Linked DNA regions of Homo sapiens: region 1 is linked to region 2. Evidence: fine-mapped expression QTL. A gene starts in region 2. The other region holds a variant in brackets. All regions are shown on one strand. Distances are between the middles of the regions. Region 1 overlaps TIMELESS (timeless circadian regulator). Region 2 holds the start of STAT2 (signal transducer and activator of transcription 2).

Region 1 (16,327 bases), 75 kb after region 2:
TGAACCCTGAATCAGGAAAAAAGCACCAGCCAGAATTCAAGCATTCAGATCCCTAGCTCACTGTATCTCCAGTAACCATCCCACTCACCGGCGTGCCCAGGAGGCAGCTTCCTTGCGGTCAGTCAGCATCATCTCATAGTAGTTGGTGAGGTTCTGCTCAATGAAGTGGAAGGTACGGACACTGAGGGTCTCAGAAACCAGGCCTGGCCGGAAGGAGGCAGCTCGGTTGAAGGCCATGAAGAAAGCCAAGGCCCACATATAATAGGTCTCATCATGCTGCTGAGCTTTCTCCCGAAGCAGGTGATCCTGACATTTAAAAAAGAAAAAAAAAGATCACCATGACTCCAGGGCTTCCAACTTCTTCCTTCCTGTCCTATGATGATGGAATGGATGCTGGACACCGTCATAATTTTTTTTTTTTTGAGGCGGAGTCTCACTCTATTGCCCAGGCTGGAGTGCAATGGCATGATCTCGGCTCACCGCAACTTCCACCTCCTGGGTTCAAGCGATTCTCCTGCCTCAGCCTCCTGGGTAGCTGGGATTATAGGTGCCCGCCACCACGCCCAGTTAATTTTTTGTATTTTCAGTAGAGATGGGGTTTCACCATGTTGCAGGCTGGTCTCAAACTCCTGACCTCAGGTGATCCACCTGCCTTGGACTCCCAAAGTGCTGGTATTACAGGCGTGAGCCACTGCGCCTGGTCTTTTTTTTTTTTTTTTTTTTTTTTGACAGTCTTGCACTGTCATGATGAGGCTGGAGTGCACTGGTCTGATCTCGGCTCACTGCAACCTCTGCCTCCCAGGTTCAAGTGATTATCCTGCCTCAGGCTCCTGAGTAACTGGGACTACAAATGCACACCACCATGCCGGCTAATTTTTTTTTTTTTTTGTATTTTTTTTTTTAGTAGAGATACGGTTTCACCATATTGGCCAGGTTGGTCTTGAACTCCTGACCTCAAGTGATCCACTGCCTCAGCCTCTCAAAGCGCTGGGATTACAGGTGTGAGCCACCACGCCGGGACACCGCTATAATACTCTAGGATCCACAATTTCCAACTCTCTCCTGTTCTCCCTTTCCTCTCCCTCTGAGGCAATTTTTCCAGAGCCTCTTTTGTCATGCCAGGAGCCCACTCGTTCCTGGCATTTTCACTATCTCTCAGGGACATCCTAACTGTATATCCTTCCCACCTACGAGTCCACATTCCAGGGGCAGCCTCCCCGAGCTCCTCCCCACTTCTTACCCACCAACAGCTGCATCATCACCTGTCTATTCCATTCCTGATTATCTCCATATCCTTCACAGGTTCTCACCTTTACTGATCCCATGAGCCGGTTGTAACAGTTCTCCAGGAACTCAGAGCAGAAGTCTCTGAGGAAGAGCCTCACATTGAGGGCAGAACGGCGCTGAATGGACAGCTCTCGGGCGGCCTGGCGACGTTTAGGCACCTTTTTCGGCTGCTTTCCCAAATCTGAACTGTAGTTTCGTAGCTGGGTGTGTCGGTTGGGGGATTAGAATTACTCCTAAATACCACTTTCCCCTTGCAGCTCTCGTCAATTTTCTCAGAAGAAACTAATTTTTGTTTTTCTTTTGAGACAAGAACTTGCTCTGTCACCCAGGCTGGAGTGTAATGATGCAATCATAGCACACTGGAGCCTTGAACTCCTGGGCTCAAGGAATCCTCCCACCTCAGCCTCCCGAGTAGTCAGGACCACAGGCGGGTGCCACCATGCTCAGTTAGTATTTTTCACTTGTTGTAGGGACAGGGTTTTGCCATGTTGCCCAGGCTGGTCTCGAACTCCTGGGCTCAAGCAATTCTCCTTCCTTAGCTTCTCAAAGTGTTAAGATTACAGGCATGAGCCATTGTACCCAACCTTTAATTTAATTTTTTTTTTAGAGACAGGGTCTTGCCATGTTGCCCAGTCTGATCTTGAACTTCTGGGCTCAAGCAATCCTCCTGCCTCAGCCTCCCAAAGTGCTGGGACCACAAGTGTGAGCCACCAGGCACAGCCAAGAACTCTTAAGATGATTACCCTGCTTAAGCTATGCAACTCCACTATGTTCCCACTCCAGATGTAAGAATACTCACGTTGTGAAGGCCTTTGTGAAAGATGAGGTCCCTCTCCCCAATGGATTTCAACCCCTGGACAATATAGGAGCCCCCAAATCGAGAATGCCTGCAGAAACAAAAAGGTCCAAGGTGATTTTTCAGTTCTCTGGAAACTTTATCTCCATTCTCTATCATCGGCACATTGGAGCAAGTTAAAACTACAAAATGTTGGTCGGGCACGGTGGCTCACGCCTATAATCCCAGCACTTTGGGAGGCTGAGGCAGGCGGATCACCTGAGGTCGGGAGTTTGAGACCAGCCTGGCCAACATGGTGAAACCCTGTCTCTACTAAAAATACAAAAATTAGCCTGGCATGGTGGCATGCGCCTGTAGTCCCAGCTACTGGGGAGGCTGAGGCAGGAGAATCGCTTGAACCCAGGAGACAGAGGTTGCAGTGAGCAGAGATCGTGCCAGTGCACTCCAGCCTGGGCGACAAGAGCAAAATTCTGTCTCAAAAAAAAAAAAAAAAAACACTAAAATGTTGTTCAATCACCCCACCTTAGAATTTGCCTTCTATGCCCTCAGCATTCCATGATGTAGGAAAAAGAACCTGCCTCTCTGTCACTCACCTGTTGCCTCGCTGGAGGGCTCGAGTCTTCTTTTCTGCCATCTCTCGCTGGCGCAACACCTCCAGTTCTGCAAAATCTGCACTCCGCTCCTGAGCTAAGCGTCCCTGCCCTACTCCCGCCAGCTGCTCGGGGTTCTAGATTGGAACAAAGAGGGAAGAATCAGGAGGACAGTCATTCCTTATCCTGAGTTCACGCCTACTGGGGATGCAAAGAGTGAACAAAATAGAACCCCATTAATGGGGCATTGTGCTGTCGTTCTCCCTTATCTGAGGGGGAAATGTTCTAAGACACCCACTGGATGCCTGAAACTGCAGACAGTACTGAAATATATATATGTATATATTCATATATACATATATATATTTGTATGTGTATACACATATACATAGAACATGTACGTTCTATGTTTTATAGAATGTATATATGTGCTATATATATAGTTATCAGAAAACAGAACATGTATACATATATATATACGCACATACACATATTCTATTATGTTTTTTCAATTTGATAACTAAGATGGCTAGTACATGACTAACAGGCGGGTATACACTGTGGATATGCTGGGCAGAGGGATGATTCACATCTTGTTTAGGACAAACAGGGACAAAAGATTTCATCACACTACTCAGAACAATGTACAAGTTTAAAACTTCTAAAATGTTTATTTCTGAAATTTTCCACTTAATATTTTCAGACCATGGTTGACTGTGAGTAACTGAAATCAAGGAAAGAAAACCATGAATAAGGGGGTACTACTGAACTCAAGACATGGCTACTCCTGCTGTCGCCTGCCTTCCCCAGATAATGCAGCCATTATCACAAGAGCAATTCTGGCTGTACAGCAGAAAAGTACATGGGCGGAGGGGACTCGGGCAATAGGCCAGGGTCTCACCTGGTCACGAAACATAAGGGAGACAATCTCTAGCACATGTAGGCTCCATTGCTCCTCAGCAGACGAGCTGGCCAGAAAGAGGAGCAGGTCATCCAGGCCGCTGAGGTGAATCGCCCAGAGGAGCTGGTCATGGGCACTGGCGTCATCATCAATCTTCTGAGCAGTGAGTGGTGAGGGTAGAAAGGAAGCTCATTCAATCCCACTGCCCTGCCTTGAAGCTCTCCAACTCATTCTTTGACCAAGCCTCCTCTCCCAGACTTGTCAGAGGACAGAATAGCCCAAAAAGGGCAGCTTGGCCGGGCGCGGTGGCTCACGCCTGTAATCCCAGCACTTTGGGAGGCCAAAGTGGGTGGATCACAAGGTCAGGAGATCGAGGCCATCTTAGCTAACATGGTGAAACCCTGTCTCTACTAAAAATACAAAAAAAAAAATTAGCCAGGCATGGTGGCGGGCACCTGTAGTCCCAGCTACTCAGGAGGCAGAGGCTGAGGCAGGAGAATGGCGTGAACCCAGGAGACAGAGCTTGCAGTGAGCTGAGATCGCACCACTGCACTCCAGCCTGGCGACAGAGAGAGACTCCGTCTCAAAAAAAAAAAAAAAAAAAAAGGCAGCTCAACCTAACCATGCACAAGAACACAGAACACCCAAGACCCTCACCTTCTCCTGATCAAGGTCAGCTGGGACATGGAGAATATTTCTGACCAGCAGTAGGATCCGTTCAATCAGCAAGTTGTCTTCCTCCTGCCGTTCCTCCCAGCCCTAACCAGAAGAGAGTAAGAGGAAGAGACTCCCTGTGGAAGGCAGGCAGTATGTACTCTGGCTGGAAGACCCAGGCATAGAAGAGAAGCAGGATTAAAAAGAAAGAGTTCAAACAGTACTGAGGCAGCCAGAGACTATGGATCGGACTACCACATCCCCAAGGACTGGGACCATATCTCAGCATCTCCTCCTCTGCCCGGAGAAGGTGCAAAATGCTGTCCCATGGTATCCTGTAAGGTGAAGACTCACTCACCAGCTGCAGCAGCTCATACAAGGTTTCACTGAGGACTCCAAAAGCCTTCTCACTGGCAAAGGCCTGTGAAATAGGGAACCTGATCTTAAGTAGCAGTCATCCACTTCTTCACCACTGCCCCATATTCCACCCCAGGGACTCCAAAGGAAATCCTCACCTCTTTGTAGGCCTGCAAATAAGTTAGCACCTGCAAAAAATGGTGCCGAAAGCTGGGCTCCTTAGGCAGATTGCCAAAACAGAGCAAGGCTGGTTGTGTCAAGTTCACCATCAGTCTGGGAGACAATGAAGGAGGGAGAAGTTGTTAAGTTTCTTTACCAGCTCAAACGCCAAACCTATCAGCTCAAACACCAAAGCCTGGCAGGTGGCAAAAGTTTAAAAGCTAGGGAGGCAACCTGATAACAGCATCAAAGAGAGGCTTGTCCTGGTGGTGCTGGGTGAGGATGGGCAGAAGGTCGCTCTGTAGGATCTGGGCTGCCCCCAGCTGCTGCCGCACATCTCGTGTCTCATCCTCATGCCTCAAATAGCGGATCAGATCCTTCACGCTCTCTTCAGAGACAGAACAAAACATGCATGTGGAACCTTGGAAGAAGCTCCATCCAGACCCACATCTTTTCACACCCATGGTTTGAGGAATTCAACAGACCTCCTTAATTCAAGCCAATTTTTTTCCTGTTTCATCAAAAAGGTACTCACCTAAGCAATCTGGTTCCTTATGGTAAGTGTCTCCCTCCAAGTACCCAAGGGCACTACATGTGGCTAGAAGTTCACAGTTCATCATGTGCAAGTCCATACATCAGTGGACCAACCAACAGAGAAGGAAGTGGAGAAACAGGAGACAGAAATGATGAGGCCTGGAGAAATAGAGAAAGATAAAAAATGTAAGTTCCTCTCCATGAAAAGAAGATAGGAACAGGACGAGGCCCTAATGCTCAGAATATTCTGAACAAGATCCTCAAATGTTTGACTTTTGTCACAACCAAAAGTTCTGCTCTCAGCCCCAGAGAAAGTTTTAAATAATGGCTTCTACCTGATCAAAACCAAAGAGGCTCCAGCCTATGAATTAAGCACCTACCCTGGCCAGGCGCGGTGGCTCACGTCTGTAATCCCAGCACTTTGGGAGGCCAAGGCAGGCAGATCACCTGAGGTTGGGAGTTCGAGACCAGCCTGACCAACATGGAGAAACCCTGTCCCTACTAAAAATACAAAATTAGCCGGGCGTGGTGGCGCATGCCTATAATCCCAGCTACTCGGAAGGCTGAGGCAGGAGAGTGGCTTGAACCCAGGAGGCAGAGGTTGTGGTGAGCCAAGATCATGCCGCCACACTCTGGCCTGGGCAACAGAGCGAGACTCTGTCTCAAAATAAATAAATAAATAAAATTGTTAGACCCTGGCTGGGCACAGTGGCTCATGCCTATAATCTCAGCATTTTAGGAGGCCAAGACATGATGATCATTTGCCCCAGTGTTCAAGATTAGCCTGGGCAACATTGTGAGACCCCATCTGTACAAAAAGCCAACCGTTGTGGCACACACCTGCACTCCTACCTACTCGGGAGGCCGGCTGAGATGAGAGGACTACTTGCGCCTAGGTGTTTGAGGTTGCAGTGAGCTGTGATTGCACCACTACACTCCAGCCTGGTCTACAGAGTCTCTGGAAAAAATAAATTGCTCAACCCTGTCACCCTCCACTTTCTGTGGCTCTTCCAGGCAGACACAGCTCTGATGTACCACAGGAATTAAAAAAACCGAGCTCTGGCCATACAGTGATTCCACCAAGGATCTAATACATCTCAGGAGCCCTGAGGCTTCTGAGACACTGCGAATGTGTAGAGAAAGGTCCTTCACTCTCCTCTCCAAAGTTACTCTTAAACCTTGGTAATTTCAGTAGAAATCAGCATCTAACAGAACAGGTGAGGAAATGGAGTGAATAGAAACTGGTACATTCCCTATCACTATCTCCCAAAGAATCATCTTCTTTTAAAAAAAAAAAAAAAAGAGAAACAGGGTTTCACTCTGTTGCCCAGGCTGGAGTACAGTGGCATGATCACAGCTCATTGTAACCTCAAATTCCTGGGCTCAAGCAGTCCTCCTGCCTCAGCCTCCTGAGTAGCTATGACTCTGGGCATGTGCCATCATGCCTGGCCTTTTAAAAAATTTTTGTAGGCCAGGTGCGGTGGCATCCCAGCACTTTGGAAGGCCAAGGCAGGCAGATCACCTAAGGTCAGGAGTTCGAGACCAACTTTGCCAACATGGTGAAACCCCATCTTCTACTAAAAATACAAACATTAGCTGGGCGTTGGCCGGGCACGGTGGCTCATGCCTGTAATCCCAGCACTTTGGGAGGCTGAGGCGGGCGGATCATGAGGTCAGGAGATTGACACCATCCTGGCTAACACGGTGAAACCCCCTCTCTACCAAAAATACAAAAAATTAGCCAGGCGCGATGGCGGGCGCCTGTAATCCCAGCTACTCAGGAGGCTGAGGCAGGAGAATGGAGTGAACCCGAGAGGTGGAGCTTGCAGTGAGCAGAGATTGTACCACTGCACTCCAGCCTGGGCGACAGAGCGAGACTCCGTCTTAAAAAAAAAAAAAAAAAAGAAACAGCTTGTTTAACACTCCGAAAAAGTATACAGTATATGATATAATCTCAGCTATGTCCTTTAAAATCCATAATCACTATGAAAAACTCCATACTGTCTATGGAAAAACCAAACTCTGACAAATATTTAAAGAGACTTATTCTTAGCCAATGAGTAACTGCAGTCCAAGAAAACACTAATTTAAGAAGTCTTGGCTGGGCGTAGTAACTCATGCCTGTTATCTCAGCACTTTGGGAGGCCGAGGTGTGTGGATCACCTTAGGTCAGGAGTTCAAGACCAGCCTGACCAACATGGTGAAACACTGTCTCTACTAAAAATACAAAAATTAGCTGGGTGTGGTGGTGTGTACCTGTAGTCCCAGCTACTTGGGAGGCTGAGGCAGGAGAATCGCTTTAACCCGGGAGGCAGAGGTTGCAGTAGGCCGAGATCACGCCACCACACTCCAGCCTGGGCCACAGAGCAAGACTCCATCTCAAAAAATAAATAGAAATAAATAAAAATAAAAAGTTGGAGTCAGTAGAAAGGAATGTTTAATATTAGCGTAAGTTAGTTAAGGAAGTCTGCTAACCATCGTGTGATTGATGCTATGCCAGAGTCAAGTTATGAGAGCAAGCCATAACATACTGGGTCCAAGTGACCTGTTTAGCAAGATGGATGGGCTGCAGACATGGCTCTCTCCAGGCTCCTCAGAAAGGAATTTAGAACACCGAACAGTGGTCAGAATTCAGTAAGAATACATTATCCTTATTTTTCTCATTTCACTTCAGACGGATGGAAATGTCATCATATATTAGTGTTCTTCTAGCATTTAGAAATCATTGATTTATATAGTAAAAATCATAAACCAGTCCAACAAAAGGAAAGCTCCATGCTGTAGGGCTTCATTTTGTTTTGCTCATTGCTGCATTCTCCAGTGCCTAGAA[T/C]AGAGCTTGGCATATAGCGAGCATGCAATTTTTTTTTTTTTTTTGAGACAGAGTCTCACGCTCTGTTGCCCAGGCTGGAGTGTAGTGGCGTGATCTCGGCTCACTGCAACCTGTGCCTCCCAGGTTTAAGTGATTCTTTGCCTCAGCCTCCCAAGTAGCTTGAATTACAGGCGCACGCCACCATACCAGGCTAACTTTGTATTTTTAGTAGAGACGGGGTTTTACCATATTGGCCAGATGTGTCTTGAACTCCTGACCTCAGGTGATCCACACACCTCGGCCTCCCAAAGTGCTGGGATTACATGCTTGAGCCACTGCGCCCAGCCAAGCATGCAATAAATATTTGCCGAATTTTGAATCAACAGATTATCCTGGGTCATACCCTTTGAAACAGTAAACTGATTTCAGAAAATATAACTGAAGAAAATAATTCATAAAAGAAAGGAAATCATTTGTACAAAACCAAAAATAGTAATACCTTTTCCTAGTACACTCAAGTTTGCAAAATGATTTTATAGCTTTTTTTTTTTTGAGACAGGGTCTCACTCAGGCACCCAGGCTGGCACCCAGGAGTGCAGTGGTACAATCACGGCTCACTGTAACTGAGGAAGCAGAATACAGAAAATGAGGCAGGATAATAGTAAAGGGAATTTAAAGTTGGATAAAGGGCAGAATGAGTAAGAACATGAGAGCAGAAGCAAGGTGAAGGGGTAGGTGAGCAAGAAGCAAGATAAAAGGCAGAAGTTAAGCAGGCCAAAACAAAAAGTAAGCTAAGAGAAGCAAGCAAGGACCCCATGGCCCGCAGGATCAAGACCAAACCAGCAAGGGGCAGCTCTTCAGGGCAAGTCATATGCATCAAAGAGAAAAAGTGTCCTTATGATGACCCCGTATGATAATCAACTCATCAACGCTCATGCACATGGACTGCATATCATGCATGTACTTAAAATTATGGGATGGAGGCAGCAGGCAAGCACTAAGCAACACACCCATCAATCAAAAAGGCAGACACTGACTAGAGATTAGGCAGCCAAAAAAACACATAAAAAGACCCAAACTACACCAAACTAATGCTGATCTCATTTTGCAGAGGTCAGTCTGCTCTCTCGCTCCGAGAGTGTTAATACTGGGCTTGATAAACATTTTTTTTTTTTTCTGAGATGGAGTTTCGCTCTGTCACCCAGCCTGGGGTGCAGTGGCACGATCTTGGCTCACTGCAACCTCTGCCTCCCTCCCGGGTTCAAGCGATTCTCCTGCCTCAGCGTCCCAAGTAGCTGGGATTACAGGCATGCACCACAACACCCAGCTAATTTTGTATTTTTAGTAGAAACGAGGTTTCTCCATGTTGGTCAGGCTGGTCACAAACTCCCGACCTCTGGTGATCTGCCCGTCTTGGCCTCACAAAGTGCAGGGATTACAGGCGTGAGCCACCGTGCCTGGCTTGCCCAGCTAATTTTTTGGTATTTCTGGTAGAGACAGGGTTTCACCATGTTGCCCAGGCTGCTCTGGAACTCCTGACTTCAAGTGATCCTCCTGCCTCCTAATTATGCTAACTCAAATTTGAAAGTCTATATTTAAAAAGGGCACAGCCAGGTTCAGTGGCTCACGCCTGAAATCCCAGTACTTTGGGAGGCCAAGGCGGGAGGATCACTTGAGCCCAGGAGTTTAAGACCAGTTTGGGCAATATAGTGAGACCTCGTCTCTACAAAAAATTTAAAAAATGAAATTATCCGAGTGTGGTGGTGTGTGCTTGTGGTCCTAGCTACTAGAGAAGCTGAGGTGGGAGAATTACTTGAGCCTGGGAGGTGGAGGCTGCAATGGGCTGATATTGCGCCACCGCACTCCAGCCTAGATGACAGAGCAAAGCTCTGTCTCAAAAAAAAAAAAAAAAAAAAAAAAAAAAGGAATGGAATACTGACTGATACATGCCATGAAGTAGATGAAACTTGAAAACATGTTCAGTGAAAGAAGCCAAACACAGCCGGGTGCAGTGGCTCACACCTGTAATCCCAGCACTTTTGGAGGCCAAGGTGGGCAGATCACCCTGAGGTCAGGAGTTGAGACCAGCCTGGCCAACATGGTGAAACCCTGTCTCTACTAAAAATACAAAAAAATTAGCTGGGCATGGTGGCGGGCGCCTGTAATCCCAGCTACTCGGGAGGCTGAGGCAGGAGAATCGCTTGAGCCCTGGAGGTGGAGGTAGCAGTGAGCCCAAATCGTGCCACTGCACTCCAGCTTGGGCACCAAGAGTGAAAACTCCTTCTCAAAAAAAAAAAAAAAAAAAAAAAAAAAAAGAAGCCAAACACAAAAGGTCATATATTGTATGATGGAATTTATATGAAATGTCCAGAATAGGCAAATGCAATAGGCTGATATGGGCACAGTGGCTCACGCCTGTAATCCCAGCACTTTAGGAGGCTGAGGTGGGCAGAAATGGTTGTACAACTCTCTGAATATACTAAAAATCACAGAATTGTACAGGGGTTTTCTTTTTTTTTTTTTTTCTTTTGAGACAGGGTCTCACTCTGTTGACCAGCCCAGGTTGGAGTACAGATCAATCATGACTCGCTATAGCCTCAACTCCTTGGCCCAAGCAATCCTCCCACCTCAGCCTCCCAAGCAGCTGGGACCACAGGCATTCAATACCACATCTGGCTAATTTTTAAATTTGTGTAGAGCTGGTACCTCCCTATGTTGCCCACACTGGTCTCAAACTCCTGACTGGCCTCAAGCAATCCTCCTGCCTTGGCCTCCCAAAGTGCTGAGATTACAGGTGTGAACCACCACACCTAGCCTGAATTGTACACTTTAAAAGGGTGAATTTTACAGTATATGAATTATATCTCAAACAGCCGTTATAAACAACACTCCACACAATTACTATACGCATTCTGTTTCTACCATTTTAACACCAAAAAAACTACAGACAAAAATCTCAGGATAAAATACTGTCCTTCAAATTTAATAAATATGACTTCATGAAAAAATTCATTACATTGACTTTATTTTCACATTTCATCATAGACCAGGTGAGAACTTTGTCAAACACCACAGAGCCAATGGAACTGGACATTTAAAAGGGATGTTAGTTACTTTTCCTACTCAACTAAGTATCAAGCAGTTCAGATGAAGCAATATGCATCTGAAATCAATACTTGGAGGCATTAAAATGCAAGAACCAAAAGAAAACAACAGATAAAATATTAAATGTATTTGCAATTCAAATTAACCTTTTTTTTTTTTTTTTTTTTTTTGAGACAGAGTCTTGCTCTGTCGCCCAGGCTGGAGTGCAGTGGCACGATCTCAGCTCACTGCAACCGCCACCTCCTGGATTCAAGCAACTCTTCTGCCTCAGCTTCCCAAGTAGCTGGGACTACAGGCACGCGCCACCATGCCCAGCTAATTTTTGTATTTTTAGTAGAGATGGGGTTTCACCATATTGGCCAGGCTGGTCTCAAACTCCTGACCTCATGATCTGCCCACCTGGGCCTCCCAAAGTGCTGGGATACCAGGCATGAGCCACTGCGCCCGACCAAATAAACTTACTTTTTGAAGACGAAACAAAACACTCTACCTGCCCCAAACCAACTCTGCTCCAAGGATCCTCTTTGAGACCCAGTAGTATGAACAAAATGGCATCTAGCACTTGAATTCCAATTCTGTCTGGTACTAAACTGGTGAACTTGAGCAGGTGGCTTAACTAAATCTCTTTCCTTATCAGTATACTGAGGAAATAATAATAATACCCACCCTCACAAGATATTAGGGAAGTGTAAATGAGATCATGTAAAGCAATGCTACTCAAACCTTGGTCTTCAGACCACTGCCAATCCACAAACTATTAGCAGTCTGCATCAAGGTAAGTACAGAAAGAAAGCATTAGCACTTAGAACATCTTAGGGCAATTTGACAGGCAGTTTACAGTTTTGTTTTGAGACAGGGTCTCCCTCTGTCACCCAGGCTGGAATGCAGTGGCGTGATCTTGGCTCACTGTAACCTCTGCCTCCCGGGTTCAAACTATTATCGTGCCTCAGCCTCCCAAGTAGCTGGGATTACAGGCCTGTGCCACCATGCCAGGCTAATTTTTTTGTGTTTTGTAGTTGAGATGGGGTTTCGCCATGTTGCCTAGGCTGCTGAACTCCTGGCCTCAAGTGATCCACCCACCTCGGCCTCCCAAAGTGCTGGGATTACGGGCATGAGCCACTGCACCCAGCCAATGTTTGTTGAATCTAATGATGATAATAATAAAAAGCCTGTATTCTCTATGTCTTTTTAAATGTTATTTTTCTAGTAATTTTATTTTACAGAAGTGCTTTTAGAACACTACTGATCTGCAACAGCTTGAGGGAAAAATCTACCTGGTCCTTTACCAAGACAGTTTGAGAAGCAGTGATATTAAGCACTCTACCCAGTGCTGAGCACAAAGTAAGAATCCCTGGCTGGACATGGTGGCTCACGCCTGTAATACTAATACTTTGGGAGGTTGAGGTGGGAGGATCACTTGAGTCCAGGAGTTTGAGACCAGCCTGGGCAACATAGCGAAGCCCAGTCTCCACAAAAAATAAAACACAAAAATCAGCCGGGCATGCTGATGTACACCTTTAGTCCCAGCTACCCAGGAGGCTAAGGCAGGAGGATCACTTGAGCCCAGGAGGTTGAAGTTGCAACGAGCTGAAATTGTGCCACTGCACTCCAGCCTGGGTAACAGAGTGAGACCCTGTCTCAAAAGACAAATAAACAAAACAAACAGAACCCCTCCCCCGCCCCAAATATTAATTTCCTCTCCATCTGTCAGACTCTATAGTCAGTTACTAAATGCTTAGGGAGAACCTTCCTGGCAAAAGATAGCGTGCAGGTGCAATGGTAGCGCTAAAGAAATTTAAGAAATGTAGATGCAGAGGCCAGGCGCGGTGGCTCACGCCTGTAATCCCAGCACTTTGGGAAGCCAAGGCGGGTGGATCACAAAGTCAGGAGTTCATGACTAGTCTGGCCAACATGATGAAACCCCGTCTCTACTAAAACTAACAAAAAATTAGTCAGGTGTGGTGGCGGGTGCCTGTAATCCCAGCTCCTCGGGAGGCTGAGGCAGGAGAATCACTTGAACCAGGGAGGTGGAGGTTACAGTGAGTTGAGATCGTGCCACTGCACTCCAGCCTGGGCGACAGAGTGAGACTCCGTCTCAAAAAAAAAAAAAAAAAAAGAAATGTAGTTGCAGAAATAAAATCCACAAATATAGAACAAACAATGTAAAAGATAAGGCAGTACAAGCTCTAAATACGTGATACTGAAAAAAACTAAAAAACTAGTACTCTTTTCAGGTTAAAGTGGTCAAGGAGGTTTTGTCTGAGGAAGCATGATTAGAACTGGGCCTTTGAAAGCTGCATAGGATTAAGGCAGCTGGGAATAGGATGGGCATTTAAGCAGAGAACTGCCAGTGCAAAACCAAAGAGGGAGCCATTATGAATAGATGAGTCCAACAGGAAAGCAATGGAAAAGCAGCTGGAACCAGCTTTATGGGAAAAACCTCATCTTTGTCCATCAGTTCAAAGATTTAGAACCTAAGCCAGGGAGCCACTGAAGATTTCTGAGCTAGAAAACAAAATGATCAAACCAGGGTCACACATATCCTACTACTGTATCACTATATACATCAGTTTGGCCATTTTCCCGTGTGGCCTCTATCTCTTTTCCTTTCAGTGCACTCACCCTGCAAAAGACCATACATAACCTCAGATCAATGCAACCATCTGCTTCCTAGACTTCAATTCAAATCTAGGCCCAGATGTGCTGGAGAAAACCAAACGACCCTCTATAGTGATATAAGATAGATGATGTTGCGGGAAGTCAGGGACCCCGAATGGAGAGACCGGCTGAAGCCACAGCAGAAGAACATAAATTGTGAAGATTTCATGGACATTTATTAGTTCCCCAAATTAATACTTTCATAATTTATTACGCCTGTCTTTACTGCAATCTGTGAACATAAATTATGAAGATTTCATGGACATTTATCACTTCCCCAATCAATACTCTTATAATTTCCTATGCCTGTCTTTAATCTCTTAATCCCGTCATCTTCATAAACTGACAATGTATGTCATCTCAGGACCCTGTGATCACTGCATTAACTGTACAAATTGTTTGTAAAACGTGTGTTTGAACAATATGAAATCAGGGCACCCTGAGAAAGAACAGAACAACAGCGATTTTCAGGGAACAAGGAAAGATACCATAAGGTCTGACTGCCTGGGGGGTCAGGCAGAATAGAGCCATAGTTTTCTTCTTGCAGGGAGCCTATAAACGACATGTGAGTAGGAGAAATATCACTGAATTCTTTTCCCAGCAAGGAATATTAATAATTGATAACCCTGGGGAAGGAATGCATTCCCAGGGGTAGGCCTATAGACGACTGCTCTGGGATTATCTGTCTTATGCGGTTGAGATAAGGGATGAAATATGCCCTGGTCTCCTGCAGTGCCCTCAGGCTTACTAGGATTGGGAAATTCCAGCCTGGTGAATTCTAGTCAGACTGGTTTTCTGCTCTCAAACCCTGTTTCCTGTTAAGATGTTTATCAAGACAATGTGTGCCCAGTGGGACATGGACCCTCATCAGTAATTCTAATTTTGCCCTTGCCTTGTGATCCTGCTCTGCCCTTTTGCCTTGTGATCTTTTATTGCCCTTTGAAGCATGTGATCTCTGTGATCCACTCCCTATTCGTACCCCCCTCCCCTTCTAAAATCCCTAATAAAAACTTGCTGGTTTTGCGGCTCAAGTCGCCATCATGGTCCTACCAATACGTGATGGCACCCACAGAGGCCCAGCTGTAAAATTCTTCTCTTTGTAGTCTTTCTCTTTATTTATGAGACCAGCTGACACTTAGGGAAAATAGAAAAGAACCTACATTGAAATATTGGGGGCTGGTTCCCCCGATAACATGTATAGCCTGCAACCTGAGCAGGGCCTTCAGCCTGGTCCAGCAAATCATTTCGGTATTCTTTTTTTTTTTTTTTTTTGAGACAGAGTCTTGCTCTGTCATACAGGCTGGAGTGCAGTGGCGTGATTTCGGCTCACTGCATCTCCGCCTCCTGGGTTCAAGCGATTATCTTGCCTCAGCTTCCCAAGTAGCTGGGATTACAGGTGCCCGCCACCACGCTTGGCTAATTTTTGTATTTTTAGTAGAGACATGGTTTCACCATGTTGGCCAGGCTGGTCTGGAACACCTGACCTCGTGATCCACCTGCCTCGGCCTCCCAAAATGCTGGGATTACAGGCATGAGCCACCGTGCCCAGCCTCATTTCTGTATTCTTGGTCCCCTTCATTGTCTCTTCCCAAAGAACCACTATTCCTAACTTTCATCATTATCCTCAAGCCCCTTCACTCTACTGCTTCCTTGCCTCCCACCTGGTTTATCTGCTTCCTTCCTGTTAGGAACAATTGAGGTTATCAGACATGAACTCTCTCAACTCTCTCCACCCAAGCCTAAAAACATACATATTTCAAACACCCACCCTTAGTTCTTTGCTTCTAATCTAAGTACTCTGTGATCCTCATTAATCACTTCCTGTCCCTTAGTTGGTTATTCCTTATTTCCAACCTTCCCTTTATACTAGCCCCATCCCCATATATTATGAGTTGCTCAAGGCTATTCCATCTGTTTTTTTCTTTTGAGGCAGTATCTCAAAAGTGTAGTGATGTGCAGTGGTGCGATCTCGGCTCACTGCAGCCTCAAGCCCCCAGGCTCAAGCTATCCTCCGACCGCAGCCTCCCAAAGTGCTGGGATTACAGGCATGTGCCCCCACACCTGTCCTAGCTCATCTTAAGGGGGGAAAAATCCAACATAAAATAAAACTTTCCCCTTTGATCTCTTATTGGCTGTTCCTCCTCCTACTTAAGTGCTGATTTTCCTTAGGCCTGCATCTTTAGCCTTCTTCCCTTCTCACTGTACGCGGCCTGATTGGGCAAACTCACCCTCTCCCATGCACTTCAACTACCACCCAAGCCAGAAGCCAGCAAATCTGTATTTCTGGCCCCTCTGAGCTATTGAGTTGACAATCTCGTATGTTAAACTGACTAACTGAATAGCATTCTCTACCTTTATGTCTCAAAGATACCTTACACTCAATAGGTCTAAAGCTGAACTCATCTTCCCAAGTCTGTCTCCACTTTGGCTCTCTCAAGGACTGACACTATCTCCTCAGTGAAGAAGGCTAAGAGTTT
Region 2 (16,327 bases):
TTTTTGTAGAGATGGGGTCTTGTTATGTTTCCCGGGCTGGTCTCAAACCCCAAGACTGAAGTGATCCTCCTGCCTCAGCCTTCCAAAGTACTAGGATAACAGGCATGAGACGCCATGCCTGGCCTGGTATATTTCTAAAAGACTAAATTATAATAAATTTTTAAATGAGAAAATATTGAAAACAGTAGGTATTTTTCAAGTATGTTGGAGGACACACTAGTGATTTTTCTACAACACAATATAATTACCATAAAATATAGCGTTTCCTGGAAAAAGGTAACAAGAAATTGAAAATAACCTAAATAGCTGAAAATAGGAGTTCATTAATTAAATTATGTTACCACCATATAGGGGACTGTTGTGTGGACATAAGAAATAACATGGATAAATATAATATACTGTTGGCCGGGCATGGTGGCTCACGCCTGTAATCCCAGCACTTTGGGAGCCCAAGTTGGGTGGATCACCTGAAGTCAGGAGTTTGAGACCAGCCTGGCCAACATGGAGAAACATCGTCTCTACTAAAAATACAAAAAAACTAGCCAGGCATGGTGGTGTGTGCCTGTAATCCCAGCAACTCGGGAGGCTGAGACAGGAGAATTGCTTGAACCTGGGAGTTGGAAGTTGCAGTGAGCTGAGATCGTGCCACTGCGCTCCAGCCTGGGCAACAGAGAGAGACTCCGTCTCAAAAAAAAAAAAAAAAAAAAAATATATATATATATATATATATATAAAAAATACTGTTAAGCTTAAAAAAAACCCCATGGATTTCAAAATAGTATGGACAATATGATTCCATTTTTGTTTAATAAGCTAGGTAATAGGTAATTTTCTCTTCCTCCTTCCTTCCTTCCTTTCTTGTCATTGTATTCGTTGCAGTAAAAAAAAAAATACATATATATATATTTCTGGGTGATTAAAAAAGAAGGAAAAACCAGATTGTGGGTTAATTCATTCCTTTCCCTGAAGGAGACTGGGCTCTGGGCTCCCTGCGTGGTGAGGATGAGGAGCAGAATAGAGCTGCAGTCAGCAGGGAGCAGGGCTCATTCTGGGGAGCAGAGACAAATAGAGAACAGTATCTCTTGCTATATGCAGGGCACTGCAACTTACAAATCACAGCGCATGGCGAGGACGAGGGTTGGGGTGGTACCTCTCACCATGTCTCCAGCTGTTCCAACCCGTGGTCAATGGGAGCTCTGATGCAGGCTTTTTGCTGCTGGGCCTTCCACTCCTCCAACTTTGGCAGCAGTAGCTCGATTAGGGTAGTTAATCGGCCTAGCAGTGCTTTGGAGGCATCCAGCACCTCCTGGGAAAGAGATAATGTGAGTGTTGAGCATCTCTCCCTTTCACCCTCCACCACCCAACTGGGGATGAAGAAACAAAGAAGCCAGCGCTAGAGGACCAGGGTCCCCACATCCCTCATTTTTCCAGGTCCTTGTTGCCCACATGTTCTGTCCTCTGTCTCCCACCTTTCTCCTTTTGTCCAGTTCATTGAGAGTTTCCTGCAGAATCTTCTGCTCTTTGGTCTGATGGGGGTCCAGAGAGGGTGTCTTCCCTGGATGGTGGGAACAGGAGTCAGTCCAGGGGTTCTTTCCTCTCCTTCCTGACTGGGGTCTCAGTCAGAGTCAGGAAGGAGGAATTTTGTGGAGGAAGAAAGGGAAACCAAGCAAAGCACAGGCACCTGTGGGACCCTCAGGCAAATTCTGAATGGTCATGCTTGGACCAGACACCCCCTCAAATAAAACACTGTTAGTTTTCCATGCATTTCCTCAACATTTACTGTCTCTCAGCTGCACCTCCAGCTCAGCCTCCACAAAGCACTTCCAGCTTTGCACGGCAGCAGGACTGTAGTCAGTGGGGTGTGTCTGACAGTGACTACTGCTCATCGGAGCTTTCTCCTGTTCACTTCCAGCTCCGGCTTCTCAGCAGGCACTTATCTTTCTCCAGCCCCTCAATGTGCTTCCTACCTTTGGCCTGGATCTTATATCGGAAGCAGAAGACATCCTGCTGGTCTTTCAGTTGGCTGATGGATTTTACCAGCTTCTGCAGAGGGGAGAGGACCCCGATGAGGCTGCTTCTCAGGGAGGTGTTAGGCTGAACGCTGTCAACCCTAACTCCTACCACATCTACTAACCTCCATCATAGCCCTTAAATCCAGGATCCGGGATTCAATCTCATGTTGCTGGCTCTCCACAGGTGTTTCGAGAACTGGCTCTCCTTGTTCCTGAAAAAAGAGGCTCTGAGCACGTTTTAACTCTGGCCTTTCATGCCTTAAGTTCAGGCCTGAAATTATACCACAGGATGTCGGGGGGATCCTGTTCTGAGACAACTCCCTGAGTCCTTTCCATGGTTCCTCTCTACTTCAGGAGTTTCCAACATTACCACTGAATTGTCCTCACCAATTGGGCCCTCTGAGCCTGGATCAAAATTCTTTTTTCTTCCAGAAGGAGGTTAAAGATCATCTCAGCCAACTGGGTAGGATCCTGGGAAAAGGGCTAGAATAGGTAAACAGAAAGGATTGATCCAATTCAACCACTCTCAATGACCTATTGCCCTAGACCCTCCCCACCAATGTCCACAGTATTTCCTCCTCCTTCGGGGTTCTTAGCCCTTTGTCTTTTCACCATAGCATCCTCCCAACAGTGTCACGTATATGCAACCCTTCTCTCTGCTAGTGATTCCCCAAGTCCAGACTCTGTCCTCCTTTCCCCACATTTGTTCCCGTCTCCCTTTCCACCTCCAGGTACTATTCTATTCTCCAAACCTTACTCCTCTATGCTCAGCTCCCAGTGCTACCCCATCACTCCCAACCGTTCCAAGTACCTGAATGTCCCGGCAGAATTTCCGCAAATTGTGCTGCAGCAACAAGGACTCTGGGTCCTGGCTGCAACGGCCACACTCATAGTTCAGCTGATCCAAGAAGTGGAAGAATAGCATGGTAGCCTTGGAATCATCACTCCCAAGTGCAGCTTCCTGCCTGGGCACCAGGAATAAGAAGTATTAGTGTCTCTGCAGTGTTACTGTAGTCCTGAGGCTTTCCAACCCCTTCCTGCCATTAATGATTCCAGGATCCCGGGGGCCCAGAAGTAAGGAACCACCTTTTTCATTCCCCCAACTTCCTGAAGGCCTCACCAGTTCTGGTCTTCAATCCAGACAGCCAAGTACTGTCGAATGTCCACAGGCAGGAGGCTGTGCGAGTAAAGCTGGTGCAGCTGATCCTGAAAGGGGCTGTCAAGATTCTGCAGCATTTCCCACTGCGCCATTTGGGCTCTGCGTCAGAAGGATGAGGGTTCCCAATTGGATATTTTGCTGGACTAAATCATCCATAGTTTCATGATTGTTCATTATTACTAATTTAAAATGTTTAAATTATACAAGTAATAAAAATACAGAAAACATTAAAATATATGTTGATCCTACTGCTAATCTTGGTTCTTTCCCCTCCTCTCCAGAAGTAACCACTGCTATCAGTTTGGTGCATATTCTTCCAGGGAGTGCTACCAGTTGAGTATCTGCTATTCCAAGCATTTTGGATTTCAGATTTGTCCAGATTTTGGAATATCTGCATTACTTACCAGTCGAGCATCCCTAATCCAAAACTCTGAAATCTGAAATGGTCCAAAATCTAACTTTTTGAGCACCCACATGACACTCAAAGGAAATGCTCACTGGAGCATTTTGGAGCCAAATTTTTCAGATTAGGAATGCCTAATCTGTATTTTTTTTTTTTTTTTTTTTTTTTTTTTAAGATGGACTCTCACTCTTTTGCCTGGGCCGGAGTGAAGTGGCATGATCTTGGCTCATTGCAACCACCATCCCCCTGGTTCAAGTGATTCTTCTGCCTCAGCCTCCTGAGTAGCTGGGATTACAGGCACCCACCACCACGCCCAGCTAATTTTTGTATATTTTTTAGTAGAGATGGGGTTTTGCCATGTTGGCCAGGCTGGTCTCAAACTCCTGACCTCAGGTGATCCACCTACTTCGGACTCCCAAAGTACTAGGATTACAGGCATGAGCCACTGTGGTCCCAACCTGTATTTTTTTTTTCTTCAGATGGAGTCTCGATCTGTTGCCCAGGCTGGAGTGCAGTGGTGTGATTTTGGCTCACTGCAAGCTCCGCCTCCCGGGCTCATGCCATTCTCCTGCCTCAGCCTCCCGAGTAGCTGGGACTATAGGCTCCCGCCACCATGCCCGGCTGATTTTTTTTTTTGTATTTTTAGTAGAGATGGGGTTTCACCGTGTTAGCCAGGATGGTCTCGATCTCCTGAACTCGTGATCTGCCTACCTCGGCCTTCCAAAGTGCTGGGATTACAGGCGTGAGCCGCTGTGCCCAGCCGGCCCCAACCTGTATTTTAATAGCTTCAATAAGTGGGCCTTTGTGCTTTAATGGGAATTTTCTTTCTTTTTTTTTTTTTTTTTTTGAGACAGGGTCTCACTTGGTCACCCAGGCTGGAGTGCAGTGGCATGATCTTGGCTCACTGCAGCTTTGACCTCTCAGGTTCAAGCCATTCTCTGCCTCAGCCCCTCAAGGAGCTGGGACTACAGGAGTGTGCCATCATGCCAGCTAATTTTTTGTAGAGATGGGATTTTGCCATGTTGCCCAGGCAGATCTCAAACTCCTGAGCTCAAGTAATCCGCCTGCCTCAGCCTTCCAAAATGCCGGGATTAACAGGCATGAGCCACCATAACCAGCCTAATGGTAATTTTCAAATACACACTAGAGTAGAGTGAATAGTACAAGGATCACCATCCAGCTTTAACAAACATTACTATTTCCACAATCTTATTTCATCTATCTCCCTAATTCATTTATTTTGCATTTATGTGTGTGTTTGTTATTTATATTTGATTGTGCTAAAGCATTTAAAGATCAGTGTTGATGTTAAGTATTTATTACAGCATGATCCCTGCTGGCTCTGAAGCTTTTTTTTTTCTTTTTTTTTTTTTCTTTTTTTGAGATGGAGTCTTGCTCTGTCACCCAGGCTGGAGTGCAGTGACACGATCTCGGCTCACTGCAAACTCTGCCTCCCGAGTTGAAGGGATTCTCCTGCCTCAGCCTCCCGACTAGCTGGGATTACAGGCGCCCACTACCATGCCCAGCTAATTTTTGTATTTTTAGTAGAGATGGGGTTTCACCATATTGTCCAGGCTGGTCTGGAACTTCTGACCTCAGGTGATCTGCCCACCTTGGCCTCCCAAAGTGCTGGGATTACAGGGGTGAACCACCATGCCCGGCCACCTGAAGCTTTTTTAGGAGCCAAATCTTTTTGGTGGTCAGGTAAGTACACCATATAAACTGCCCTCCATATAGGAAGGAGGAGCTCCATTCTAGAAGACATCTAAATGCTGTGCAATGGGTGGCTCAATCCCAAGAATATGACACGTTTATGACCTGTGAATCTTGAATATGATTATAGGTTATCAACTTTGTGAGATCCTGAAACTTCACTTAAAATTGTTGCCTGTAATCCCAGCTACTCAAGAGGCTGAGGCAGGAGAATGGCTTGTACCCAGGAGGCAGGGGTTGCAGTAAGCAGAGATCACATCACTACACTCCAGCCTGGGTGACAAAGCAAGACTCTGTCTCAAAAGAACAACAAATTGGTTTTTGCCTGTCACCAAGCAGGCTGTCCCATGCATCTTTCTCCCCACTGTTCCCTGCTCACTGCCAGCTGGTGTCTATTTAGGAAACTGAAACTTATGCTTGTTGCAGCCTGAGCCTAACAGAACAGAATTCATGCATATTTGTGGTCTAAAAAGGTCACATGATTTTATTACAAAATAAAGAGAAATGCTTGGGGTGGGAGAGTCTTCTACTAACATGAATAACATCAGCTGCCTTTCTACCTCCAGCAGGAACAAGGGAAGGGAGGGATTGGGCAGGGGCTATTTTCATTTTAACTCTTTTAGTAGTGCTTGATTTTTAAAACTATGTATCTGTATTGCTTTTATGATACCAAAAAAAAGTTAAAAAAATGATCAGGTGGCCAGGCATGATGGCTCATGCCTGTAATCCCAGCACTTTGTGAGGCCCACAAGACGAGAGGATGGCTTGAGCCCAGGAGTTTGAGACCAAGCTTGAGCAACATAGTGAGATTCCATCTCCAAAAAAAAATTAATGATGAGGTCCCAATTCTTGAGGATTTAAGTGTCTGATATTAAAGGAGCAAGTCAGCAAAGATTCAAATATGAAAACAAAACAAAAAACCTGGTCTCCCCAAATGGATTGCAAACACTGAGGTTAAGGGCTGAAACAATTTTTTCTCATTATCTCTCATTCTTAGGCACATATTTTGCACTCAAGAAGCTTTTCTGAAATGAACTGAATTTTGTGTGTGACCTTAGGCAATCGTTTCATCTTTCAGTAGCTTATACTTTTTAACAAAACAAGGATAATAGATTTATCTATCTTTGTTTTTAGATTTATCTATCTTTGAACATCGTTTTTTGGTGAAGATAAAAAATAATGCAGAGCAGAGGGAAAAACGTCAGATACCGAACCAACATAACAATGCCAGATTCCGGGTCTCGGAAGCTGCAGGGCAGTTTTGGGAGAGGGGCATTAGGGTTAGGGAGATAGGCTGGACAGAAGAAGATCGAGGACCGAGCAGGCGACAGCTCCTATTTCAATCTGGGGACCGAAGCTACCCTCTCCAGGGGGTAACCCCTGGGGCCAGTCGCCCTTCCCTCGGAGGAACTCTCACTCTCACCCCCACCCCTACCCCAGCACACCCTCTCAGGGCCCGTACCTGATTAGGGTTGCAGTCCCCGCGCCCTCCAATGGCTCTGGTCGCGACTTCCCGTCCCTAGTATGAGCTCGGGTACTAGAACCTCGCGCCCCGCCTACAACTTCGGCTAACCCCCCTCGGACCCGCCCCCTTGTAGTTGGCAGCGGAAGTCCGGAGCGGCCCCCATTCCCAGCCGCCACCCCGACACTGGCTGCCATTCAGTCAAGCCCTTCCCAGACTGCGAGCTCACTGGCGCCGCCGCAACTCCGCCCCTCCGCAGGGCGGGACAAGCTGAGCCGAAACCACACCTGCAGCTTCAGCGATTGGTGGAGAAGTTCAAGTAGGCACTTTCTACGAGGGGAGGAGTCCAATTAGTGGACTAGCCCAAGACTGAAACAGCTGATTTTCGAGAACCCGCGCGTGAGCCCCGGAACCGAAACTAGCTTGAGGAGCCTGGAGACGCCAAGGGCTCCATGGGAAGGGGTGGGACCGGAATTTCGACGCCTTGGGATAGGAAGAGGAGGGCTGAGGTAATGAAAACAATTTTTTTTTATTTTTATTTTTTGAGACATGGTCTCGCTCTGTCACCCAGGCTGGAATGCAGCGGCGCGATCTCGGCTCGCTGCAGCCTCGACCTCCCAGGCTCAGGTGATTCTCCCGCCTCAGCCTCCCAGGTAGTTGGGACTACAAGCGTGCATAACTCCGCCAGGATAATTTTTTGTATTTATTGTAGAGACGGGGTTTCGCCATGTTGCCCAGGCTGATCTTGAACTCCTGACCTCAGGTGATCATCCCGCCTCAGCCTCTCACAGTGCTGGGATTACAGGCGTGAGCCACCGCACCTGGCTAATAGCTATTTATTGAAAGTACTGTGATAAGCATTTTAGATTCATTGTATCATTTTAAATTTACAGGGCAACTCATTGAGGTTAAAATCATTCTATCTCCTTTAGAAACTTCAAAACTGATCTTAGTTCAAGAAAGAAGTTACTATTCAGTGATCACCGAGGCTCTAACAAGTGGAGCCTAGATTCGAAACCAAACCCTGTGACTTCAACACCCAAACATTTACGTTCTTACGTTTTACTGTACAGCCTTCCTCCTGGATAAATCAGATTAAAATTTTGAAGACATGTATATAGCTTGTCAGGGTAGTACAGTTATTAATTCTGTGGTTACCACATTCTTTTATATCTCAAGACTCCCAGCCCCAGGATCTAAGTCATAGCTCTTGATTATGGCCCACCCCCAGTAGGGAGCTGAACTTACTACTTCTGATATGAAAGAAGCCAGAGTAGTTGTTTCTTCCAAGTCACTCACATCTGAGATGGCCCTCAAACCCTCCTTGGTGGTCTCCGGCTGAGAGATGTTTGCGTCTTTCTGATCTTGGTAATACTGGATCAACTGCTGAACCCCAGACCTTAATGCAGGTTTAAGTGCAGCACTGATCGCTAGACCCATAGGCCCCCCTGACATCCCAGCCATGGTCATCAGAAGGTCATATCCCAGATCTATGGCCCCATCTCGGCCTCGTTCCCTGGCCTTGCCCAGGCAGTTTTGAGTAGCATAATACAAAGCTGTGCCCAGGTTGTAGAAGGTTCCCACTCCTGGCAGCAGCTGGACTACATTGTGCACAGCTTGCTCCTTCTCATTCTCACAGTCCTCTGTCGGGAGGGAGCGCCCGACCCTTCCTGTGCTTTGCTGCTCCCTGGCTAACAGCTGCAGAGCAGAGGCCAGGGCTTCCACTGACACGTTCCTCTCTGTGCTTCTGCCTTTCTGGAGCCCTCGAAGATGCTGGATGAGGACCTGTGTAGCATTCACACCACCCTGGCGGTAGAGCTGTAGCTGTAGAGCCCAAACATCAGCCTGACAACCAGCTTCCTCCAGGGCATTCCTTAGAGCCAGGCTTACCAAGAACTTGGGTAGAGGGGCCATGTGGCTGAAACCAGGCAGTGACTTTGGGTGCAGAAATTGGCAGGACAAGGGGTCTGAGGAGGGTGTCTGGGATTCCAAGGACAAGGGAAAGTGCATCAAGACATTTGTCTGCTTTCCATATGAAGTGGCATCCACAGGGTGCAGCAGGAGGTAGCAAAGTAGCAGCTCAACTGGTATCATGATGAGTCTGAGGCCACGCATGTCTGGAGCAGAGTACCCTAGAAAGGGGAGAAATCCGAAACATACAAACCATTTCCCTAAGGGCGATGGTGAGCCCAAGACTCAGTTAGGGGGACACCTCATACATCACCTGCTTCCAAGCTTTTGTACTTTCTTTTTAGAGACAGGGTCTTGCTCTGTTGCCCAGACTAGAGTGCAGTGATGGGATCACAAATCACTGCTGCCTTGAATTCCTGGGCTCGAGGGATCCTCCTGCCTCAGCCTCCCAAGCAGCTGGGACTACAGGTGCGTGACACCATGCCCAGCTAATTTTTAAATTTTTTGTAGAGACGTGGTTTTGCCATCTGGCCCAGCCTAGTTCTGAACTTTGGGCTCAAGTGATCCTTCCACCTCCGCCTCCCAAAGTGATAGGCTTCCAGATGTGAGCCACCGCGCCTGGCCCCAAGCTTCTGTTCTTTTTAGGTAAAGGCCTAGGAAATAGGAAATGCACCCCAGTTGCTCCCACTTGGTCTCCCCCATTTACAGGTCACCAGGGACTTCTGTTTTATTTCCACCCATATATAGGGACCCCAAATTACCACACAGTCCAGTCATTGAGAAGTGAGACTGCCTTGGTAGGTTTGATCGCTTCCTGATCCTGTTCTGCCTAGTTCTGTGTCCCATGAGGAAAGGAGATATTTGCTTTCCCCTATGATCAGTGAAGGATGTAATCTCTGCAAATATTTGCCCATTTATACTGGCTGCTCAAACCTTGTGCCCCTTGTCACACACTCAACCTCTATGCCTACAGTCCTGTTCTTTGGCATTTCCTGTATGTCCCTGCCACATTCCCACTCTAAGCTCATGATAGGAGCCAGGGAAATTCAGAATTAGGAAAGATGAGATGTTTGTGATACTCTCATTTCTCTTCATTTTAAAAATTAAATTAGCGGCTGAGCATGGTGGCTCACGCCTGTAATCCCAGCACTTTGGGAGGCCAAGGCGGGCGGATCACAAGGTCAGGAGTTCGAGACCAGCCTGGCCAATATGGTGAAACCCTGTCTCTACTAAAAAAAAAAAAATATATATATATATATATATATATATACACCCAGGCGTGGTGGTGGGCGTCTGTAGTCCCAGCTACTCAGGAGGCTGAGGCAGGAGAATTGCTTGAACCCGGGAGGTGGAGGTTGCAGTAAGCCAAGATCGCACTACTGCACTCCAGCCTGGGTGACAGAGTGAGACTCCGTCTTAAAAAAAAAAAAGGAGGGGAGCTGACACCTACTAAGTGGAGAGGGGCAAGGCTAACACTGGTCACATATGTGTTTAAGGGAAGAGGTGAAATAAAGAGCATTCATCTGTCCTAAGTGGTCTCCAACATTTCTAACTACTTACTGTGTGCCATCCTTGAATACAGTCCTGGGAAAGGAGACTCATTACTTATGTGATATTGAATAGCTGAAATGAGCCGGGATCAATTCCTGGATCATTTTCCTCACAAAGCACTTCAGAATAGCTGTGGAACATTTGATAGATTATATTGTCACTGTCCATGGACAATTTAAATGATCTTGAGAGCTTCTTCAACTTTTTGCCTAATTCTTCAATATGCTCCCAAGACTCATACCTGCAGTTCTTGGTGATGTGGACACCCAAAACTTTGAACTGTGACACCAAGCATCATGGGAGATGGTTTCTCAGCAAACTCAATCACCATCTGAGCTACCTGGTAGGCCAGCTACCCCAGTGGGTATATTTGCCACCATCCATACATTTCCCAGGATGGGCAGCTGGGTGCTGGGTTTATTCACACTTCCCTAAGGGACTACTAGATTCGTCACAATGATGTTGGTATTGCCTTCCTCCCCATTGAACTTTTTGACTCTCACGGATGAGGGTTTCAGTGGTATCCTTTCCTCGCATCTGAAACTGCAGAACATGGGCCTCAGTTGGGCAGCCCACCTCCTCCAAGGGCACCCTCAGAGCTAAGTTGGACAGGTACTCAGGCAGAGGGGCTAGGGAGGGGGCTGTGTGTAAGAGATCTTGGCAGATCCTGGGATCTGGGAGAGGAATCTGGCTCTCCATGTTCTCCAAATAATGGAGAGCATGTTTGATGGATGCCCAGTCTCTGTTAAAGATGGCTGGAGGGTCAGAGTCTCATTCTGAGCATTTCTTGGAAAGGCAGACACCAGGGACAGCAGGACACAGCAAAGCAGCAGCACAGCTTGGACCATGGGGGGACAGCAGAGCAGCCCTGCTGGAAGGAAGCAGTGCTCAGGTTGGGAAGTGGAGAAAGGCTCAGGACAAAGAGACACCAAGACTGGCCAGAGCTAGAAAGTGTCTTAGCTCTTGGAAACTTCGGTTGCCCTGAGCACACCTCATCTTCACTCTTAAAGGATGTGGGTGATCCTCCTATTTTGAGGAGAAACAAGTCAGAGGAAAAAAACAGTCCAAACATCTCATTTGCTTTGGTATCTTCATGACCTGAATTACTATTATTGTTGTTGTTGCTGTTTTTAATCTGCCCTTTCCCAGAATCACAAGGAAACCAGAAAGTTGATGGCTTCCAAAACAGTGAAGGACAAAACATTTGCAAATATTTATGCATCTCTTCCCAGCCCAGACTTTGTCCTTCTCACCTTTGACCCATACTGACAAACTGACCTTTCCCCTTTTAGGCCCTGCAGTCCTGTCCCATATCTTTTTTTTTTTTTCTTTTTCTTTTTCTTTTCCTTTTTTTTTCTGGAGACACAGTCTCACTCTGTTGCCCAGGGTAGAGTGCAGTGGCACGATCACAGCTCACTGCAACCTCCACATCCCGGGTTCAAGCGATTCTTGTGTCTCAGTCTCCCTAGTAGTTGGGATTACAGGCACGCACCACCATGCCTGGCAAATTTTTGTTTTGTTTTGTTTTCTGGAGACAGTCTCACTCTGTTGCTCAGGCTGGAATGCAATGGCGTGATCTTGGCTCACTGCAACCTCCACTTCCCAGGTTCAAGAGATTCTCTTGCCTCAGCCTCCCGAGTAGCTGGGACTACAGGTGTGCGCCACCACGCCTAGCTAATGTTTTTGTATTTTTAGTAGAGATGGAGTTTCACCATGTCAGTCAGGCTGGTCTCAAACTCCTGACCTCGAATGATCTGCCTGCCTCGGCCTCCCAAAGTGTTGGGATTACAGGCGTGAGCCACGGCACCCAGTGACATATCTTTTCTATCCTAAGGTTTTACCCTAAACCTATATTTGAGCTGAGGAAAAGGTCCTCCGTATCTTCTTGAGGGGAGAAAGGGTAAGGCAGAATAGCTGGTGATCTCTGGGACCCCTAAACCATTTTTCTTTTCTTTTTTTTTCTGAGACGGAGTTTCGCTCTTGTTGACCAGGCTGGAGTGCAATGGCGCGATCTCAGCTCACTGCAACCTCCGCCTCCCAGGTTCAAGTGATTCTCCTGCCTCAGCCTCCCAAGTAGCTGGGATTACAGGCGTGTGCCACCATTCCCGGCTAATTTTGTATTTTTGGTAGAGACGGGGTTTCTTCATGTTGGCCAGGCTGATCTTGAACCCCTGACCTAAGGTGATCTGCCCACCTTGGCCTCCCAAAGTGCTGGGATTACAGGCTTGAGCCAGCCACAGCGCCTGGTCACCATTTTTCTTATTAAAAGAATATATTGGTTGGGAAGCCAAGGCAGGCAGATGGCTTGAGCCCAGAAGTTTGAGACCAGCCTAGGCAACATGGCGAAAGCCCCGTCTCTACAAAAATTATAAAAATTAGCCAGGAGTGGTGGCATGCACCTGTAGTCCCAGCTACTGGGGAGGCTGAGGTGGGAGGATCACCTGAACCTGGGGAGGTCAAGGCTGCAGTGAGCCATGATTACACCACTGCACCATCCAGACTGGGTGACAGAGCGAGACTTTGTCTGAAAAAGAGAATATACTGGATGGGAGTCCAGGGAAACTGGACAGATTGACAAATAAGACAAAATCAGAGCAACTTTTTTTTTCTTTTTTAGAGTCCAGTCCAGGTATTGCTCTATCTCCCTGGCTGGAGTACAGTGGCCTGATCATGGCTCACCACAGCGTTTAACTCCTGGGTTCAAAAGATCCTCCTGCCTCAGCTTCTCAAGTAGCTGTGACTACTGGTGTGCACCACCATGCCTAGCTAAAATTTTTTTTTTTTTTTTTTGTAGAGATGAGGTTTCACTATGTTTCCCAGACTGGTCTTGAACTCTTGGTCTCAAGCAGTCCTCCCACCTCAGCCTCCCAAAGTGCTGTGATTAGAGGCATGAACCACTGCACCTGGTTTATTTTTCACTTTTCTAATTCCAATGCAAAACACAAATAAAACATGTCCATCAGCTGAGCAGTAACTTTCCAAATCTAACCAAAACTCCAGGAATTAGGCTTTATCTTGGGTTTAGGGGTAACATTAGTCCAAAAATTAGGGAAATAAGACATCTGATGCCTCCTAAAAATGGTACCAGTTCCTACATATCATTATGGCCTAAAGTTTCCTCTGATGTCACTCACCTCAGGCACATGGCCAAAGGGACTAGGCCAATGGCAGGGTCCAGGGTCCCTCCCTCTATTTTTTTCGGTTCTTTCAGTTCCCAGGAGTGGCCCCTGACAACTAAGAGCAAAGACAGAAGCAGAGGAGTAAGTCTCCAGGGACACAGTGCCAACTTAGAAACAGCAAGAACTAAGTGGAAAGGAGTCCAACACTGTCTGAAATTACTAGACCCCAAACCCCTGGGGAATCCCTAAGACAATATATATACATATACCTACATGGATAAAATATACGTACACACACATACACGTATACCAGGCTGGAGTGCAGTTGGTACAATCACAGCTCACTGCAGCCTTGAACTCCCAAGCTCCAGCAATCCTCCCACCTCGGACTCCTATATATCTGGGACTTCAGGCACGTACCACCACACCTGGCTAATTTTTAAAATTTTCTTGTAGAGAAGGGAACTCACTATGTTGGCCAGGCTGGTCTCGAGCTCCTGGGCTCAAGGGATCCTCCTGTCTAGGCCTCCCAGAGTGCTGAGCCACTGCACCCAGCCTCCTAGGACTCTATAGTTTCTGTGTAGCAACACTAGAAGGAGTGAAAGATTTAATCCTTGTCTCCTAAGATCTATCACAAAGCAGAAATATCCATTCTTACCAGTTTTTCCTCATTGTACTGGAAGTTCTAACCAGTGTAATGTGGAAAGAATAAAAAATAAATGGCATAAAACTAGAAAGGAAGATGTAGAACGATATTTATTTAAATACAACATAGCTCTGGCTGGCTCAGTCGGTAGAACATGAGACTCTTAAAAACAACATGGGGGCTGGGCGCAGTGACTCACGCGTGTAATCCTAGCATTTTGGGAGGCTGAGACGGGCAGATCACGAGGTCAGGAGTTCAAGACTAGCCATGGCCAGCATGGTGAAATCCCGTCTGTACTAAAAGTACAAAAAATTAGCCAGGCATGGTGGTGCGCACCTGTAATCCCAGCTACTCGGGAGGCTGAGGCAGGAGAATCACTTGAACCCGGGAGGCAGAGATTGCAGTGAGCCGAGATCTCGCCACTGCACTCCAGCCTGGCAACAGAGTGAGAGTCTATCTAAAAAAAAAAAAAAAAAAAAAAACCAGCAACAACAAAAAAACAAAAAAAAGACATGGGGCGGGGCTTGAGACCAGGAGTTCGAGACCAGCCTGGCCAACATGGTGAAACCCCATCTTTACAAAAAATAAAAAACACAGCCAGGGGTGGTGGTGTGCATCTGTAGCCCCAGCTACTCGGGAGGCCGAGGCAGGAGAATTGCTTGAACCCAAGAGGGGGAGGTTACAGTGAGCTATGATTCTGCCACTGCACTCTAACCTTGGTGACAGAGTGAGACCATGTCTCAAAAAGTAATAATAATAAAATTTAAAAAAGTAATACAAAATAAAAACAACATGGACTAGGCATGGTGGCTCACACACTTTGGGAGGCCAAAGTCCAGGAGTTCAAGACCAGCCTGGGCAGCATAGGGGAGACCCTGTTTCTGCAAAAAAAAAAAAAAAAAAAAAAAAAATTAGCCAGCTCAGCTGTCCAGCTGTGGTGGCACACGCCTGTAGTCTCAGTTTCTCAGGAGGATCACTTGTGCCCAGGAGGTTGAGGCTTCAGTAAGCTGTGATCGTACCACTGAACTCCAGTCTGGGTGACAGAGGGAGACCCTGTCTCAAATAAATAAATAAATAAATAGATAGATAGATAGATAAATAAAATAATAATTAAAAAATAAAAAATTAAAAGAAACAATGTGATTGTTTATGCATAAATCCTAAAGAATACAATTTTAAAAGGACCAATAAGTTAATTTAGCAAGGTGACAAGATAAAATATTAATATATAAATGAATTCTATTTCTGTAGTCTAAAAACATACATTGAATGTTAACTTAGGGCCGGGTGCGGTGGCTCACACCTGTAATCCTAGCACTTTGGGAGGCCAAGGTGGGTGGATCACGAGGTCAGGAGATCAAGACCATCCTGGCTAACACAGTGAAACCCTGTCTCTACTAAAAATACAAAAAATTGGCCAGGCGCGGTGGCTCACACCTGTAATCCCAGCACTTTGAGATGCTGAGTCGGGTGGATCACAAGGTCAAGAGTTCAAGACCACCCTGGCCAACATGGTGAAACCCCATCTCTACTAAAAATACAAAAATTAGCTGGGCGTGGTGGTGTGTGCCTGTAATCCCAGCTACTCAGGAGGCTAAGGCAGGAGAATCGCTTGAACCTGGGCTGCAGAGGTTGCAATGAGCCGAGATCGCGCCACTGCACTCCAGCCTGAGTGATAGAGTGAGACTCCATCTCAAAGAAAAGAAAGAAAAAAATTTAGCTGAGTGTGGTGGTGGGCGCCTGTAATCCCAGCTACTCGGGAGGCTGAGGCAGGAGAATCGCTTGAACCCGGGAGGCGGAGGTTGCAGTAAGCCAAGATCGCGCCACTGCACTTCAGCCTAGGCAACAGAGCAAGACTCTGTCTCAAAAAAAAAAAAAAGAAAATTAACTTAGAAAATTCCAGCTGGTTACCATGGCTCAAGCTTGTAACACCTGGACTTTGGGAGGCTGAGGTGGGACGATTGCTTGAGGGTAGCAATTTGAGACCAGCTTTGGCAACATAGTGAGACCCTGTTTCTACAGAAAAATAAAATGAAAAAAAAAATTCCAATTACAATAGTGTTTAAAATAAACAAGTAAAATTCCTAAAAGAAGAAACAAGACAAGGATGCTCACTCTTGCTACTTCTATTCAACATTGTACTGGAGGTTCCAGCCAGAGTAATTAAGCAAGACAATGAAATAAAATGTACCCGATTAGAAAGGATGAAGTAAAACAACCTATATTAGTGGGTAGCATGATGTTGCATATTAAAAAAACTCAAACTTACACACACATAGACACACACACACAAAATAAGTACTAATAAATGGGTTCAGCTAAGTTGCAGGATACACTATCAATACACGAAA

What was found. PIP is the estimated chance that this variant, and not a neighbour inherited with it, causes the effect.
Region 1: its variant is fine-mapped to the expression of STAT2 in whole blood (TOPMed, PIP 0.97).

The regions. Positions count from the first base shown.
Region 1 is chr12:56,428,795-56,445,121 of GRCh38, forward strand. TIMELESS (timeless circadian regulator) reads right to left here. Exons shown (of 29, transcript NM_003920.5): 2 at 5,280-5,437; 3 at 4,979-5,132; 4 at 4,744-4,858; 5 at 4,587-4,649; 6 at 4,232-4,333; 7 at 3,575-3,730; 8 at 2,677-2,810; 9 at 2,087-2,174; 10 at 1,311-1,487; 11 at 89-306. The coding sequence starts at 5,376. Among named protein-coding and RNA genes, the nearest start is that of TIMELESS, 12 kb to the right of the region's middle. RefSeq lists an enhancer at 14,439-15,072. The variant T/C (reference allele first, on the strand shown) is at 8,109.
Region 2 is chr12:56,353,309-56,369,635 of GRCh38, forward strand. STAT2 (signal transducer and activator of transcription 2) reads right to left here and starts at 6,799. Exons shown (of 24, transcript NM_005419.4): 1 at 6,750-6,799; 2 at 3,133-3,270; 3 at 2,824-2,977; 4 at 2,400-2,495; 5 at 2,135-2,224; 6 at 1,968-2,043; 7 at 1,470-1,555; 8 at 1,158-1,306. The coding sequence starts at 3,263. APOF (apolipoprotein F) reads right to left here and starts at 9,549. Exons shown (of 2, transcript NM_001638.4): 1 at 9,422-9,549; 2 at 7,260-8,881. The coding sequence starts at 9,437. The coding sequence ends at 7,917. RefSeq lists enhancers at 5,666-5,865, 5,697-5,866, 6,942-7,121, 7,192-7,281.